Linked DNA regions of Homo sapiens: all the other regions are reported to be linked to region 1. Evidence: microRNA targets listed by miRTarBase, many of them from high-throughput screens and not tested one by one. Region 1 holds a microRNA gene; each other region holds the end of a gene's coding sequence.
What was found. The annotated mature microRNA hsa-miR-511-5p reads GUGUCUUUUGCUCUGCAGUCA and lies in region 1 at 3,460-3,480, opposite strand. An mRNA with a match to its seed (bases 2 to 7 or 8) in the 3' UTR can be bound and repressed. Matches are read on the target gene's strand: a 7mer-m8 pairs with bases 2 to 8, a 7mer-A1 pairs with bases 2 to 7 and ends in A, and an 8mer does both.

Region 1 (5,472 bases):
AGAGTGTGCTTGTAAATCACAAGCACCACACAATCATTATTTAATTAAACCAGCTGTCAACATCCTCAGCCTCGCTACTAATAGGATCAAATTGTATAATCTTGATTATACGCTGCAAAAATTTAATAGTAATGAGCTAGGGGAAAGTGACAATAAAGACATTTGAAGGCAGATGTTTATTCATCCCTATTGCCTTGAGCCTGGCACAGGGCCTGGTACATATAAGCGTATTGAGTATTGGAAGAGAAAAAGAATTGAAGTTATAGTTGATATATGGCTGCTTGTTATTACTATTCTAGAGATACTATTTCAAACAGTAATTTGGCAACATGTTTTGCTTAGAAGGGGACTATATTGCCAAATGAAAGTGAACGTATATATTATTTAAGCTCATATTAAATGTTTTCAAATGGCTGTCTTAGTATATGTTCGTTATAGGGTACCTTTCTTCACTATTCCTTTGATGAATTGGTCGTATCTTCCCTTAAAGGTGGAGAGTATCTGAAACATCATTGTTTAAGCCCAGGATTTTGTGCCCTGCAGTCATACAAGTAACTACTCAGTCATGAGGCTCAAATGCTGTACAATTGTAATAAAAAATGCATATTTAAAAAAATTCTATTCCCTCAATACAATTTAGATTCTGTGCACTTCCAGTGGTTACAAAAAAAAAAAGAAGAAAAAGAAAAAGAAAGCAAGCTTAGTACAGCTTTGGAGCCCTCTGGTGGGTTATTTTAATTTTGCTACCTAGGAAATTGAAAATAGTATCAGCCAATGCTGTCCTTCAAAAACTGAAATGATGAACTTTAAACATATTTGAAAGCATGAAAACAACCAACTTGAGTGAAATGAAGGGGAGTTCCCTGGGGCAGCCACAGAAGATGATTTGTTCCTCTAGCCACAGCTCATGTGCTCAGTGGCCACATGCGGTTAAGTGGCTGCTAAGCCAGAGAGTACAGCCCTAGAGACCTGAGGATTATGGACAAACGGGTTAGTGTTACAATAATTCACAGGGTTTGAGGTTGAATTCTTGCCTAAGGCTGTTGCTAATCCCGTATGCTGCATAATTTGAACTCTGATACGCTTTTCCAAGCTCTGGTTTATTTGAGTTTATAGATAAAACAGAATCATTAATCCAGGGAGTATAGAGATGTTCAGAAACTGACATCAAGTGGTTAGCGAGTGAAGAAGGCATCATGGAGGAATAAGAATGTACTGAGTGTTTGATGAAATGAACAAAATTTTATCTCAGGAAGAAGAGTCATGAACATTTCCATTTTACACATGAGGATCCCAGCACCGGCAGGTTAAGCAGTAAGGCCAAGTTACAGAATTCTGAGTGCTGTACCAGAGAAACTATAAAGTAACTATTCTCCTCTTTGGCAACATGGAAATTCCAAGTCTTAGAAAGAGAATTGTAATGAAGGCTTCCAAAAAAGGAAAAAATACACTATTTCTCCTAGAGGAGGAATAGTAGAGGTAAAATGCAAAAATGGTGAGCTTTCTCTAAAGATACCCACCGTCACTATGGAGAGCCTGTAAAGGATAATCAAACCCAACATCCAGGTCCCGCATCTATATCTATTTAGGATCTTGGCCAAATCTATATCAATTAAAATTGCAAACACATCTCCTCCCTAATCCAACAATTCCACTTCCAGGAATGATCACATGCATGAAATGATGTGCATAGAATGTATATAGTTATTTACCTCAGGACTGTTTGTATTAATAAAAGATTGGAAGTAAATTAAATTAAAAATCCATTACACAGGAGATCGGTCAAAAAAATATATGTGCTGTCTCTGCAATAGCTTTTGGACAGCCATAAAATTAAACATAGAAGCTGTTTATATTCTACGTGGAATGATGTCCAAAATTGTTGTTAAGTGGAAAACTTAGGATAAAAACATATTATAGTATACTGCCATTTGTATGAAACAAAAATAATTATAAATATATTTGTTTATATAGTCACAGAATAACTAAGGATACACACCCAGAAACAATTATTCTCCAGGAAGGTAAACTGGGTGTTACAGGTGAGAGGTAGGGAAAACCTTATTATTTATCATGTTGTATCTTTTGAATCTCTAGCTATGTCAAGCGTATTTTAAAATACATGAAATTGCTTTCAAAGCCAATGGGAAGAAAAAAACAAGAATGCCACATTGTCAGTTTCCTCCAGCAGAAAAACAGAAATAAATTAAACCATTTAAAGCATTCGCTGTCCCTCCAAAAAGAGGTAATAATAAAAAATATGTAGTTTGTCTTTCATCAATTGGAAGAAAGAATTCTTGCCTTAGTAGTTTATTCTCCTATAAAATTGTAAGGGACAACACAATTGATTTTTTTTTTTCTTGAAGTCTAGCCGATATTTAAAATTCAGTTACAGGCCAGGCACGGTGGCTCATGCCTGTAATCCCAGCACTTTGGGAGGCTGAGGTGGGTAGATCACCCAAGGTCAGGAGTTCAAGACAAGCCTGGCCAACACAGCGAAACACCATCTCTGCTAAAAATACAAAAATTAGCTGGGCGTGATGGCACACATCTGTAATCCCAACTACTCGGGAGGCTGAGGCAGGAGAATCACGAACCCAGGAGGCGAAGTTTGCAGTGAGCTGAGATCGCGCCATTGTACTCCAGCCTGGGTGACAGAATGAGACTCTGTCTCAATAAATAAATAAAATTCAGTTACAACTTTTTAGATATTTTATTCTATTTTATGAAAACTTTAGTATAAGACGCTACACTGAATAGCAAGGAAGCCCAGATAGAGCCGTGAGGACCTAATATAAACATCCCTTCCAAATGTTGACTTTCTAGCTTGGATTCCGGTTTTGCCATGTCTGCAAGGTTTCTGTATCCTCTGAATATCTTTTTCCTCAACTATAGCATGTGAATCATGACACCTACCTCAGAGGACTGATTGGGAAGGTAACATTTTTATTTAGGTCAGAGGATCTCCACAATGCCCAGACACCGCCGCACACTCAGGAAATACTAGCAACCAGCACACAGAAATATTGCAGTAATATCATTAAGTTTACCCCATCAACTATCCACAAAACCTCTGGCGGCATTCCAACAGTTACACCTAAGCTGTAATGTTACTTATCTTTCAATTCTAATAGTTGAGGCACTTCAGATCCCATAGATCACTTACCTGAGGGAATAACAAAAGAATTTAAAGTGGTGTTGCCCTTTTTGCAAATATAGCCCAGTTTCTGAACACATTCCAGATTTTCCCATTTAGCATTTTTTCCAGGATTTAGTGACACACAGCTTTTTCCAGGTTCAGCTGATGGACTTCCTTCGAGGAAAAGGAAAAGTTAAAGTGGACTATTATAGCTATTCCCAGCAGATAGCATCCCTCCCACGTCTCCTCATGTCTTCATCCTGGGGATTCAATGGACCACCATTCTGTCTTTTGCTACACATTCACAAAAAAATATTTACTGACTGCAGAGCAAAAGACACGATGGGTGTCTATTGTTTTCTTATCGTTGGATCATTCCAATACTTAGAATGTTGATAAAGCAAATATACTTCTTTGAAACAACCCTTTCCCCCATTATCAGCTAATAAAGCTACACCTTAAAACTTGAACAGTTGTCACAACGGATTACATTATCAAAGAGAGGTACCTAATGAAAAGAATGCATGATTATGCCGCCATAAAAAAAAATGAAATCATCATGTCCTTTGCAGCAACATGGATGCAACTAGAGGCCATTATCCTAAGCGAATTAATGCAGAACAGAAAGCCAAATAGCCATGTTCTCACTTCTAAGTGGGAGCTAAATACCGAGTACTCATGGACACAAAGATGGCAACAACAGAAACTGGGGACTATGAGATGGGGGAGGAATGGAGGGTAACAAAGTTTGGAAAACTAGCTACTGGGTTCTATGCTCACTGCCTGGTTGATGGGATGGATCATTTATATCCCAAACCTCAGCAACATGCAATTTACCTAGGTATGTAACAACCGTGTACATGTATCTCTGAATCTACAAGTAGAATTTATTAAAAAGAAAGAATACATGATGTTCCAAACCTGCCACACTAAACATTATTAGGGCAGGGCACGGTGGCTCACGCCTGTAATCCCAGCACTTTGGGAGGCTGAGGCGGATGGATCAACTGAGGTCAGGAATTCGAGATCAGCCTGGCCAACATAATGAAACCCCATTTCTACTAAAAATACAAAAAAATCGGCCGGGGAGCTGGCGGGCACCTGTAATCCCAGCTACTTGGGAGGCTGAGGCAGGAGAATTGCTTGAACCTGGGAGGCAGAGGTTGCAGTGAGTGGAGATCACACCACTGCACTCCAGCCGGGGTGACAGAGTGAGACTCTGTCTCAAAAATAAAAATAAAAATAAATGGAGGAGAAAAAGCTAATGGGAGAGCTAGATGGGCAGCATGCTGTGCTCCCAGAACTAAAACTGTCTCAATATCTTCAACTCAGCCTACTGAAGAAGACTTTCAGCAGCTATGCCTTATCCATTTCTTAGTGGAAACTGATTAAAGAACCAGATAAAGTCAACGTTGCTAAAGGGATGAATGTAGGCATTGATACATTTCACATGCGTTTTGCTACTCTAATATATGATTTAAAAACCAGTACTCCCCAAACTAGCTTCACCTTCCACCTGAAGACAGGGTGAATGAGCCACATTCTGTTAATACCTATGCTTTGTGACCTCCAATGTGTATGTAACCTGTGCCTGAATGTCACTTCCTTTCCTGCAAGACGGAAATCATATTACCTGCTCCACAAAGTCTGGAGCAGGTAATAACCTAAATAACCTTTTTAAAGTTTTGGTGGTATTCTTTGTGTGGTAATTAAATGATTTTTTTAAAGTTTATTTAACTACCACACAAAGAAAATAATGGTTAGTAATAAGCATTAAGTTATCTTTTTTTTTTCTTTTTGAGATGGAGTTTTGCTCTGTCACTCAGGCTAGAGTCCAGTGGCGTGATCTCAGCTCACTGCAACCTCCACCTCCTGGGTTCAAGCAATTCTCTGCCTCAGCCTCCTGAGTAGCTGGGACTACAAGTGCCCACACCATGCCCAGCTAATTTTTGTATTTTTAGTATAGACGGGGTTTCACCATCTTGACCAGGCTGGTCTTGAACTCCTGACCTCGGGATCCACCCGCCTCAGCCTCCCAAAGTGCTGGTATTACAGGCGTGAGCCACTGCACCTGGCCAAAGTTATCTTAAAGTTAGTAATAAGCATAAAGTTATCATAAAGTTAGTAATAAGCATAAAGGTATCTTAAACATTTGCTGATACTGTAACTAAAATAACAGGATAACTGAACTAACAGATAAGGTATCAGCACTAAAAAGAAACTTTCAAACAAATACATTTCTAGCTCTAAGTTATTAATTGATGTGCTAATTAGTAAATCATATTACACATTTATTTATCAATACAATACCTCTCTCAACTTTGAGACATCAA
Region 2 (5,236 bases), not on the chromosome of region 1:
ATGTACTTGGAAAGCATTTAAGAGCACATTCATTTGTTCACTTTTTCTTATTATGCTATAGATAGGCATAAAACCTTTTTGGGAGAGGTTTGTATCATTGTTTTTTGGAGATGGAGTCTGGCTCTGTCACTCAGGCTGGAGTGCAACGGTGTGATCTCGGCTCACTGCAACCTCCGCCTCATGGGTTCAAGTGATTTCTCCTGCCTCAGCCTCCTGAGTAGCTGGGATTACAGGTGTGCACCACCAAGCCTGGCTGATTTTTGTATTTTTAGTAGAGACAGGGTTTCACCGTGTTGATCAGGCTGCTGTTGAACTCTTGACCTTGTGACCTGCCCACCTTGGCCACCCAAAGTGATGGGATTACAGGCGTGAGCCACTGTGCCCGGCCTGTATCATTTTTACATTAACAAATGGAGCAGATTTCTTTATCTATTTGAGTTGTTCAGAGATCTTGATATGTCTACTTCTGTTGTCATTTCTTGAAAGGGTCCTCTCTAACGTCTTAGGTCTGGAAGAATTAAGTCTGTTTTTTTTCTTTTTGAAGCTTAATTTTAATTTTCTCTTCAATAATTCTTGTAATTTATACATATTTTATGCATGTCATTTATGAAACTCCAATCTTGTTAATGTCCGATAATTGATTAATCTATTTTCTTCTGCTTTTATTTTCAGATAGAAGAATTTCGAAGGCTGAGGACACATGTTAAGGGGGCAGAACTTGTGGAAGGCTGTGATGGGATTTTGGGAGACAACTTTCGGCCCACTCAGCCTCTTAGTGACAGAGTCATTAGAGCTGCATTTCAGTAGCCAAAGAGGACAGGAACAAGTCTGTCTTCATGAGGGTATGTCCAGATTAAGTAAGGAAAATGAGGTGCACAGCTACTTAAACCTAGCGTACCAAAGGTACACTTATTGTGATCCTGGTAATTTAGTAATAAAAGCGTATGTACTTCATCTTGATAAAATTTATGACACATTCTTGAGCTCTGTTAATTACAGGTCAAGTAGGTATTTTAATTTTATGCAGTATTGAAGAAAAACTATGATTATATTTTCCTATCAGAGTAGCCTTTAATTCCAAGTTTTGGTGGCTTTCATAAGAACAGACACCCTCAGGCCCAGAAAAAGTGACATGCATGCATACCTCTTTAGTAACTTACCATGTTGTCCCCGTGAAGCAGCACCAGTCATGTCCCAGTGACCAAGGAGCACATAGGAGGGGACTTGGGGAGCGTGTGAGCCTCAGTGTGGACCCTTCTCGTCTCCTGCAGAATTGATCCTCTTGTTTCTCAGGGGAGGGAGCATATCTGGCATGCATTGAAATACTTCTTCTATGGAAGTGCCTTTTATATGATAAATTGAGAAGCACTTATTAATTATCTGAATATGATACACTATTGATTGAAACATAATCTATGTATTTTAATATATAGAATTCAATGTATGTATTCCTTACTCTTAAGGAACTAACAAAATAAAATATCACAAACACGGAAGAGATAAAATATAAAACAAACTATATATTGGATTATTTATTTACCTTGTAAATTTCCTAAGTGCATAGGTCATTGTACATCACTGGCAAACCACAGCTTCCCAAGGGGAAGGCATCTGTTGGAATAGAACCTAGGGAAGCAGCGAAATCTCATCTCTATAAACAATTTAAAAATTAGCTGGGTGTGGTGGCATACGCTTGTAGTCCCAACTATTCAGGAGGCTGAGGTGGGAGGATCACTTGAGCCTGGGAGGTGGAGGCCGCAGTCAGCTGAGATCACACCACTGTTCTCCAGCCTGGGTGACAGATTGAGATCGTGTCTCAAACAAAATGAAACAAAACAAAAAAACGAAGAAGTCTGCCAGGTAGCCAGGGTGATAGATGCGGAGGCTTGGACACTAGAATAGGAACAGTGGAGGTGGAGAGAAGTTGATGTATATGAAATAGAAATCGCAGGTTATAGCTAGTGATGAATTGGATGAGGGGTGGAGGGAGATGGAAGTGTCAAAGATAAATTCCGGGGTCTTACACTTTGGAAACCCTGGATGGAGTGCCACTGAGTGGCAGTGGGAAAGCTGCGGGGAGGCCCTGTTTGGTTGAAGATAAAGAGTTGAGTTGCAGCACAGTGAGTGAGAGATGCCTGTCAACCACAAACTGCAATAGCGGACTCTGGTCATGAAGGTCATTAGCATTTCAAGAGTAGAGAACAGAAAACAAGTCTGGGTTGAAATAGGGACGTATTGGGTGTAGACATTGTATATGTTCATATAATGTTCTGATGGATCTAATGGGGTTACTTAATTAAGTGTGCATAAAATCTTGTGGGAGGCTTTACAGACAAGTTAGCCAAGACACAGATAAGTTAGGTTACGGGCCAAAGTAATACAGTGATTGAGCAGTGGAGCTGAAGGAGATCCAGGCAGCTTGACTGGCAGAGCCCTTTTTCTTCACCACGACATGGGCAGAGGTTAGAGAGTTTTGCCACACTGGCGGTCGAGTGACACATCAAGGAGGGATGTGGTTGCAGCAGGCTAAAGGCCATAGGAAGGGAGGAGCTGGAGACTCCAGGTCGCAGCCACCTTGGTGGGCTGGGGTGGGGCAGGAGGCCGCAGCAACAGAGACGGGGTGGGATTGAAGAAGTCTTTTTTTTTTTCTTTTTTAAACAAAAGAAATAGAACTTGTCTATATGCTGGGGTGTGGGAAAGGAGCAAGTAGATGGAGAGAGGCTGAAGATACTGCTTCTGGGAGGAGCTGGAGCAGTGAAGTCTGAAAAGTTGAAAGGGATGAAATCCTAAGCACACAGGGAGACTGGCTTTTGCTGAGAGGATGGGCACTCTCTGTGCTGCAATGGGAAGGAAGAAAGAAGGAGGTGGTGGTTTAGAGCTGCTGTGTACCCATGACTTGCTCTTACCATTTAATGATGAAGGGGCAGGAGCTAGGAGTGGGAGAGCAGCAGTGAAGATGGATAGGAGCAGAGGAAGAGGGAAGGATGTGTTCACAGGAGAGGCCAAGAGGCAGCGGGGGTGGGATGAGGGTTGCAAAGCGTGAATTTATGCATTTCTCCAGTCTAGGTTTAGTTAGTATACTCCCTGTGAATGTCAATACCTGTAAATGATACTTTTAATGAAGGGAGATTATTCCCTTGAATGTTTGGTTTGTATCTTGTCCTAGACCAGAGTTGCCATTCTCTAAATATCTAAATGACTATTATTATTTTCTCTCTCTCTTTTACACACACACGCGCACACACACACACAGAGAAATGTTGTTTATGAGATTTTGTATATTTCACATACTTCATATTCTTTATATGATAGATGAATAATGTGTAGTTTTTCAAAGTTTTGAGTTAATTACAATTTAGGTACTATTTCTAAAAGGAAGATATATTTGTGTTCTTACTTTGGTGGCTGAGATTACTTAAAGGGGATAATTTGCTCCCAAATTCCTAAGAATGGTACAGGAATTCTAAGGTGACTAATTCTTATTTCATTTTTTTATGAATACTTTTATCTTGAAATGTGTAATACAAATCTGGTCAGAGTTCTATATAAAAATTATATTGGGAATCAGACTTATGTGTGTGTACTTTTTATTTGATATTTAATAATGCCCTAAGGCAGGTAATTCAAATTTTTATTAAAGTGAAATGATTTGACAGTCAGACTTTGAATTTAATGCATGAATGTTTCATTTAAGCTCTTGGAACTAAAAAGGAAAAGACATTTCTCTGGTAGTTGTTCTCTAAAAAATGTTTAAAATAATTCAGATATATTTTAGCTATGTTTTACTGAAATAACTTTAGTTTTAGACTTAAAATGACAGATTTTTAAAAAAATGACATGTCTGGGCACCTGGAAGACTTTGATAACCAAGCTTTATTATTCCCATGAGTAATCTGTGACTTTTTATATTACCATTTAAGAAGTATGAACTATGATTTTGTATTATACTTGTTTAAAGAATTAGTATGTAAGTCATCCAGGTGCTGGAAATTCTTTGGTTCAGCGGTGCTAATTCAGATTTATGGGTGCCTATTGATATTAAATGATCCTTTACCCATTGAATTTTCTATATGATGCAGGAGAACTAAATGTATTTTAATAACAATGAACAAATGATATAACAAGTTTAAGGTCCAGTTTACTTGTTACTTTTGGTATCATGACATTGGTACTCATCTTCCAGCAAAATGATTATTTGATTATTTGCCTTTTTACTTCATAAAGTGTTAGCCCATTTTTAAAAGGCTGTTCTGACGCTCAAAGACTGTCTCGCTTGTGACCTAAATATTGTTAAGCTGTATACATGTTTACAGTAACTATAATGAATTATAATTATTTTCTGTAAAAAGCAATGTCACACGGCTCTTTAGTTTCTCTTTTTTTCTGCCTTAAATGTGGAAAAATAAGAATGCCCTAAATACGTTAAAAAAGAAACAAAGCCAGAAAAATGGGGTTATTCAGCAAGCATCTCCAAATAGTCCCATTGTCAAACTTGCCCTTATTTTTCTTTTGGGATCTTTGAAGTTATCCTTGACTGTTGAACTCTTCCCTACTTGTACTTTTGCGGTTAATAATATTGTCTTCTTAGCTTTAATAAAGCTATAACAAGTATCAATTTCATATCAGTCTTCTTTGATAACCTAAAAGAGTTACAGGTTAGAAGAGGGTAAGGCATTATAGAGAAGGGGGTGCCTGTGTGAGGAAAGGAAAGTGAGAATGTTCACTCTGAATGACCAAGTAGGTGAAAGCTATTATCCTTCCAGATTAAATGGAAAGCTCAAAGCCATATTTTCAGTCAGTAGAACTTGGACTCTCCTCTGATAATTTAACATGGTGCACAGCATTAGGGTTAGAACTGAAGGCTCTACAGATGTAGCTGTTTTCTATTTATTATATCTCATAGAATTTCCTCCAACTGGAATGGATTTCCTACCAGATCTCAAAATGATTTCAGTAAAATGCCAAAACACCAAGGATGCTCAGAATACCTATTATGTTTTGATTATGTGATATAAAAATTATTAACCCACCAATGAAAAATACAAGAGCTGTATGAGCTCTCTTCAAGATTACTAAACAAAGAAAATAATTCGTGCTTTAAAATATATCTCTTCCTTTTTATGTTTTAGAAATGTTAATAATTTATCATGGATAAAAATTTCAGAATGATTTTTTCCTCCCACTATGAATTAAAACAAAATTGTGTTTGGGAGGAAGAATGTTTTGCAGTCATGGG
Region 3 (5,236 bases), not on the chromosome of region 1:
AGGAAAACCCAAAAGTGGTCATCTCTGTTTTAGAGAAATACCTTTTAGTTTTCTGTGTGACACAGAGTGATGTGGCTATACTGGTATACACTTGCTAGGCCAGTTTACTTATTTTGAATGAACTGTATAAAATTTGATTTGCTTATTCACAGCTTCAATCGAATAGACATTCCACCCTATGAAAGCTATGAAAAGCTATATGAAAAGCTGCTAACAGCCATTGAAGAAACATGTGGATTTGCTGTGGAATGACAAGCTTCAAGGATTTACCCAGGACTCTATTTATACAACCCTGACTGACAGCCTCCTTTCAGCAGAGTTTCAAAGAATATGCTGAAATACAGGAAAACACTCCCCCCCCCCCCCTTTTTTTTTTTTTTTTTACATTTTAGGACACTGTGAGGGGAAAGGACAATTTTGAAATTCCTTTTCAAGGAAAAAAAAGGTCTTTATGCTTTGCCATGAGGCCACATTCAGCTGCTATTTAAACTTAATATCTTGAACCTAAAGAATGCTGACTTTTCCTACATTTCCAGAGTTAGGCAGTATTCTACACTTAAAGACTACTACTATTTTTATAAAAGGTAATCTATTCAAATTTCTTCACAGATTTCAAGTCTCTCAAACATCAAGACAACTTCAGCAGTCGGTACAAGTCACATTTCATTTTGATTGAATACATGATCTTGAACAGCTCCTGTACTTGCTCTTTGTAAAAAAAAATAAAATTATTTTGAATTATTCTACCTTTGTAAACAATTGGCTAAAAGAATCATCTTTAAGAAATTAAGCCATTTACATGTTTGTGTTTTTCTATAGCAGAGCATTATATTTTGCATTATATGTTTCAACCTAGTCTAAGTGGGTCTTTTTTACATTTTTCAAGAACGGATTTCCTGGAATACAGCGATATAATTTTGGTTGTCAAATTCCTAATGCAACCATTTAGTCTAAACTTAGTCATTTATTTGTGACAATAAGATGTGTTCAGGGGCTCCCTGTTTTTAAGAGACTCTTTTAAAAAAAAAAAAACCTAATGTTTTTATCTTGAGTCAATATGATTAGGTATTTTGGATTTACTTTTAATCTTAAAATACTGCATTTTTATAGCTTCTCAGAGCATGTGGATGGGATGGGATTTTCGTTATTTTGCTGGGTCAGCTTATCTTTAATATATGGACTATTCCTATAAACCAAAGTCTCTGACAAGTGCACCTAATTTATATTGTATTTTAACTACAGTGTAAGTTTCCATTAACAAAACCATCCTAAAGCGTTAACTGCTCATAATTTTAATCAGCTACAGTTATGAAAAAGGAAGAATTTTGCTCTAAAGATTATTAATAAGCTTAGAAAATCCTGCTTTTACCTAACAGAATGAAGTGGGGTTGAGGGGCGGTAGTATGAACAGTGATTCTAACTCTATGGCGTAAATTACTTTGAAGAGTTCATTTTGGAAGTAAGGGAATCCCGCTTCCCTTGGTGTTGAAGATCTGCATCTGATTTTGAAACGTCCAGATTTAGCTTTCAAGGTGCGTGCATGTTGAATGATCCAGAAGCAACGAAAACTCTGGGGTGAGGGATTGAAAAAATCTGAAATCACAGTTGGATTTTTAAATTCAACCATCAAAAATATGTACTATCAGTTTTTTTTTACATTGATGTGAAATAAGCAAATTTTCATGATAATTAAGCTGCAAAATTTAAAGTTATCAAGTAAATAGGTCCTCTGTGTTCTGTTTCATGTGATGGAGTGGGTTTCAGTCTGTGTTCTTGGAGCCAAAGGGTTCCTCAGGGGTGCCTCAGGAGTAATGGTTTAAGAGAAGAGGGGCAATGAGAGGGAGCGAGGGGGAAGGCCTAGTTGGTATTTGAGCAGGGGCCTTAGGCTCCATATCCCCACCCCCTTTACCCAGAACAGCCCATTTTTCTTATGTATATTGGAATTTCAAGTAAGCTTTCATGGGGTGCAGTGGGGCGGGGAGGAATGGATGGGATAAAAAAAGTGGAGATTTTGCTGCTTTAAAAAAGTTGAGAACTACTTGTGTAGTTTTTAAGTATTTTAATGTATTTCATTTGGCCAAATTCAACTGCCACAAGCAAGCTAGTCATAGTTGTAACTGTGCAGTGGTAATATGCTTATGCCTACCTTTTTCCTCTCAAACAATTTGTTTTTTTTACATTGCATTCTGAGTACTGAAGAGCATCTTGAAATGTATGGAAGTGGTTTCTATGCTATTTGATAATCAGTAATGTTCAGCTGTCATGATAGTACTTTACTGGTTGCAGACCCATCTCTCTTTTATATTAAAGCACTAGTGCAGTTTATAATTGTGCCTACTTTTAAAATCTTTCAGTAAAAAAGTACATAATGAATACAGAAATCATAACTGACAGGGATACAGTAATAATGAAATGCTACTATCACTTATTTTAATATACAATATAAAGCAGGCAAATACCATTGCTTTTTGAGTGCCTTTTTAACTTTATACTAATGACTTAATAGAGCTTTAAAAGAAAGAAATTGGCTGGGCATGGTGGCTCACACCTGTAATCCCAGCACTTTGGGAGGCCGAGGTGGGCGGATCACCTGAGGTCAGGAGTTCGAGACCAGCCTGGCCAACGTGGTGAAACCCTGTCTCTACTAAAAATACAAAATTTAGCCGGGCATGGTGGCGCACTCCTGTAATCCAACTACTTGGGAGGCTGAGGCAGGAGAATTGCTTGAATCTGGGAGGCAGAGATTGCAGTGAGCCGAGATCGCACCACTGCACTCCAGCCTGGGCGACAAGAGTGAGACTCCGTCCCCGCCCAAAAAAAAAAAAAAAAGAAATTACTCTCCATAACAGTCTATGTTATCACCAACATATATAAAAACATGATTTAGATTTCCATTTCAAAGTTACATTACCCGATTACTTCCAAATAGGTGCTAAGCAAAAACCCCCAATGTATTATTGAACCATGGACTTGCACCTCATGTTTAATGTGAATATTTATTTCCATGTCCCTCTTAACTGGTTTTTTCTTGTCTTCCCTCTAGCTGTATTGTTATTTCAGATATGTGATATCTGTTTTCATACTCTTGCCTTTCCATCATGAATGCTTAGTTATGAACAGAGATTCCTTTGTAGAGCTCATAGGCAGTACAGAGAGGTAAGTCTTGCCTCAGAGGGCCTTGTATCTTGGTGTAGTTTTTAAATAGTGCATAGTGTATAGTGTATAGTGTACATTTTGTTTTGCACATAGTTTGTTGCCCCGAATGGGTTTTTTACCAAGCCTTTTTTTCTTTCATGTATTTACAGTCCGGAGCACAAGATTCTCTTCTTTCAAATACAATGTAATTCGCTTTACTTTACAACACTAAATCTGGGCTTTGAATTTCCAGTGCATTGGACTGATTGGATTGTTGGGAGTTAGAGGCTGTTCCAACCATCCTTAGTTTGGGAGAGTGGCTCCTTCTGCTTGTTTTCTAAGCGTACAGTCAACGGGTGCCATTTGTGGTATTTAACATGTTAGGATGATTGTTCCAAATGCTGAGTTGTTTTATTTCTAGATGTAATTAGTTCACTTTATGTAATATTCTTCTCTCAGACTGACTTTAAAAACAAAGTTTTATCATTTTCATTGTATTTGTATTTATTACAGAGTGTTTTAGCTTTGATATTCTTTGTATTTTCATTCATTTGTTACATGAGCTTTATCAGTAACATCTGTATAAATGGTTTTTAAAAATTAACTATGTATGTGCCCATGCCGAAGTCGAGCAATAAAATCAATGCTGTTTGCACTGTCACAGCATCAACGTTTTTAAAGAATATTGAGTTTGTAATGAATCGTTTTGAAAACATTTATGGTTGGCTCTATGGAGGGTGACAACATGAGTCACAAAATGAAAAGTTCAAGAACACATGCCATCCTGAGTTGATGCCTCTGTCATGTTGCAGAGCTCAGCTTTCTGTCTCCTCGCAGAGCAGGGAAGGTGCCCGTTTTCTCCGGCCGTGGTGACTGCTCAGTTGGTAGTACCTGTTGGGGGTACCGCATAGGTGGATTTCTGAGGGGGGTCAGGGGCTAGTGGGGAAGAGCATCTTGGTCCTGTCACCAGTCTGCAACCATCTTTGCTATAATACATCTCCGCTCTGTAGGGCAGGCCTATGACAGGGGCTCATATTTGCCAGCCCTACCTTGGTATGTCGAGCAGTAAAATTCTCAAAATGAAAAGGAGAAATCAATTGTATTTTTTCTAGAAGCTGTGGATTTTAAGGTTTATAATTCACTACTGTATTAATGATAGTGGACTAAAGTCCAGCTAACTCTATGGATAGAAAAGGAATGAATATGGTCTGTGTAAGTCTACACAGCATAGGGTACAACAGAAGGGAACACCTGGGAAATGTGTAAGTAGTAGCAGTGTATTAAAGTTCAAAGGGTGAGCATGCTTTTGTTTATATGCTTTAATATTCTTTTGAATATTTTTGTTTTGCTTTGTCCCTCATTGCTGTGTTTACTGGTTTTATCTAAAATTTATAAAGTTTTAGTACATTAAAGATTTTTGGCCGGGTGCAGTGGCTCGCGCCTGTAATCCCAGCACTCTGGGAGGCTGAGATGGGCGGATCACGAGGTCAGGAGTTCAAGACTAGCCTGGCCAACATGGTGAAACCCCGTCTCTTTACTAAAAATACAAAAATTAGCCAGGTGTGGTAGTGGACGCCTGTAATCCCAGCTACTTGGGAGGCTGAGGCAGGAGAATCAGTTGAACCCAGGAGGCAGAGGTTGCAGTGAGCCAAAATCACGCCACTGCATTCCGACCTGGACAACAGAGCAAGACTCTGTCTCAGGAAAAGAAAAAAAAAAAATTAGGCCAGGTGCTGTGGCTTGCGCTTGTAATCCCAGCACTTTGGGAAGCCAAAGCAGGTGAATCTCTTGAGCCTAGCTTGAGACCAGCCTAGGCAACATGGCGAAACCCCATCTCTACAAACAATATGAAAACTAGCTGGGCGCAGTGGCACGTGGCTGATAGTCCCAGCTACTGGAGGTGGGGCTGAGATGGGGGGATTGTTTGAGCCCTGGGAGGCCGAGGCTGCAGTGAGCCATGATTGAGCCACTGTACTCCAACCTGGGCAACAGACTGAGACCTTCCTTGTCTCAAAAACAATTTTTTGTTTTTTAGTATTATAATAGTCTACAAATTATCCAAGTTTGATTTGACTAATGATCAGAAGTTTAACCTGAAGTT

Region 2: miRTarBase lists CA8 as a target of hsa-miR-511-5p. The part of its 3' UTR that is shown has no 7-base or 8-base seed match.
Region 3: the mRNA of SMURF2 is a reported target of hsa-miR-511-5p. Seed matches in the 3' UTR shown: 7mer-A1 at 631-637.

The regions. Positions count from the first base shown.
Region 1 is chr10:17,843,130-17,848,601 of GRCh38, reverse strand. MIR511 (microRNA 511) reads right to left here and starts at 3,495; the gene lies at 3,409-3,495. MRC1 (mannose receptor C-type 1) reads right to left here. Exons shown (of 30, transcript NM_002438.4): 6 at 3,167-3,313.
Region 2 is chr8:60,204,356-60,209,591 of GRCh38, reverse strand. CA8 (carbonic anhydrase 8) reads left to right here. Exons shown (of 9, transcript NM_004056.6): 8 at 673-842. The coding sequence ends at 807. Among named protein-coding and RNA genes, the nearest start is that of CA8, 74 kb to the left of the region's middle.
Region 3 is chr17:64,540,864-64,546,099 of GRCh38, reverse strand. SMURF2 (SMAD specific E3 ubiquitin protein ligase 2) reads left to right here. Exons shown (of 19, transcript NM_022739.4): 19 at 153-3,818. The coding sequence ends at 252. Among named protein-coding and RNA genes, the nearest start is that of CEP95, 37 kb to the right of the region's middle.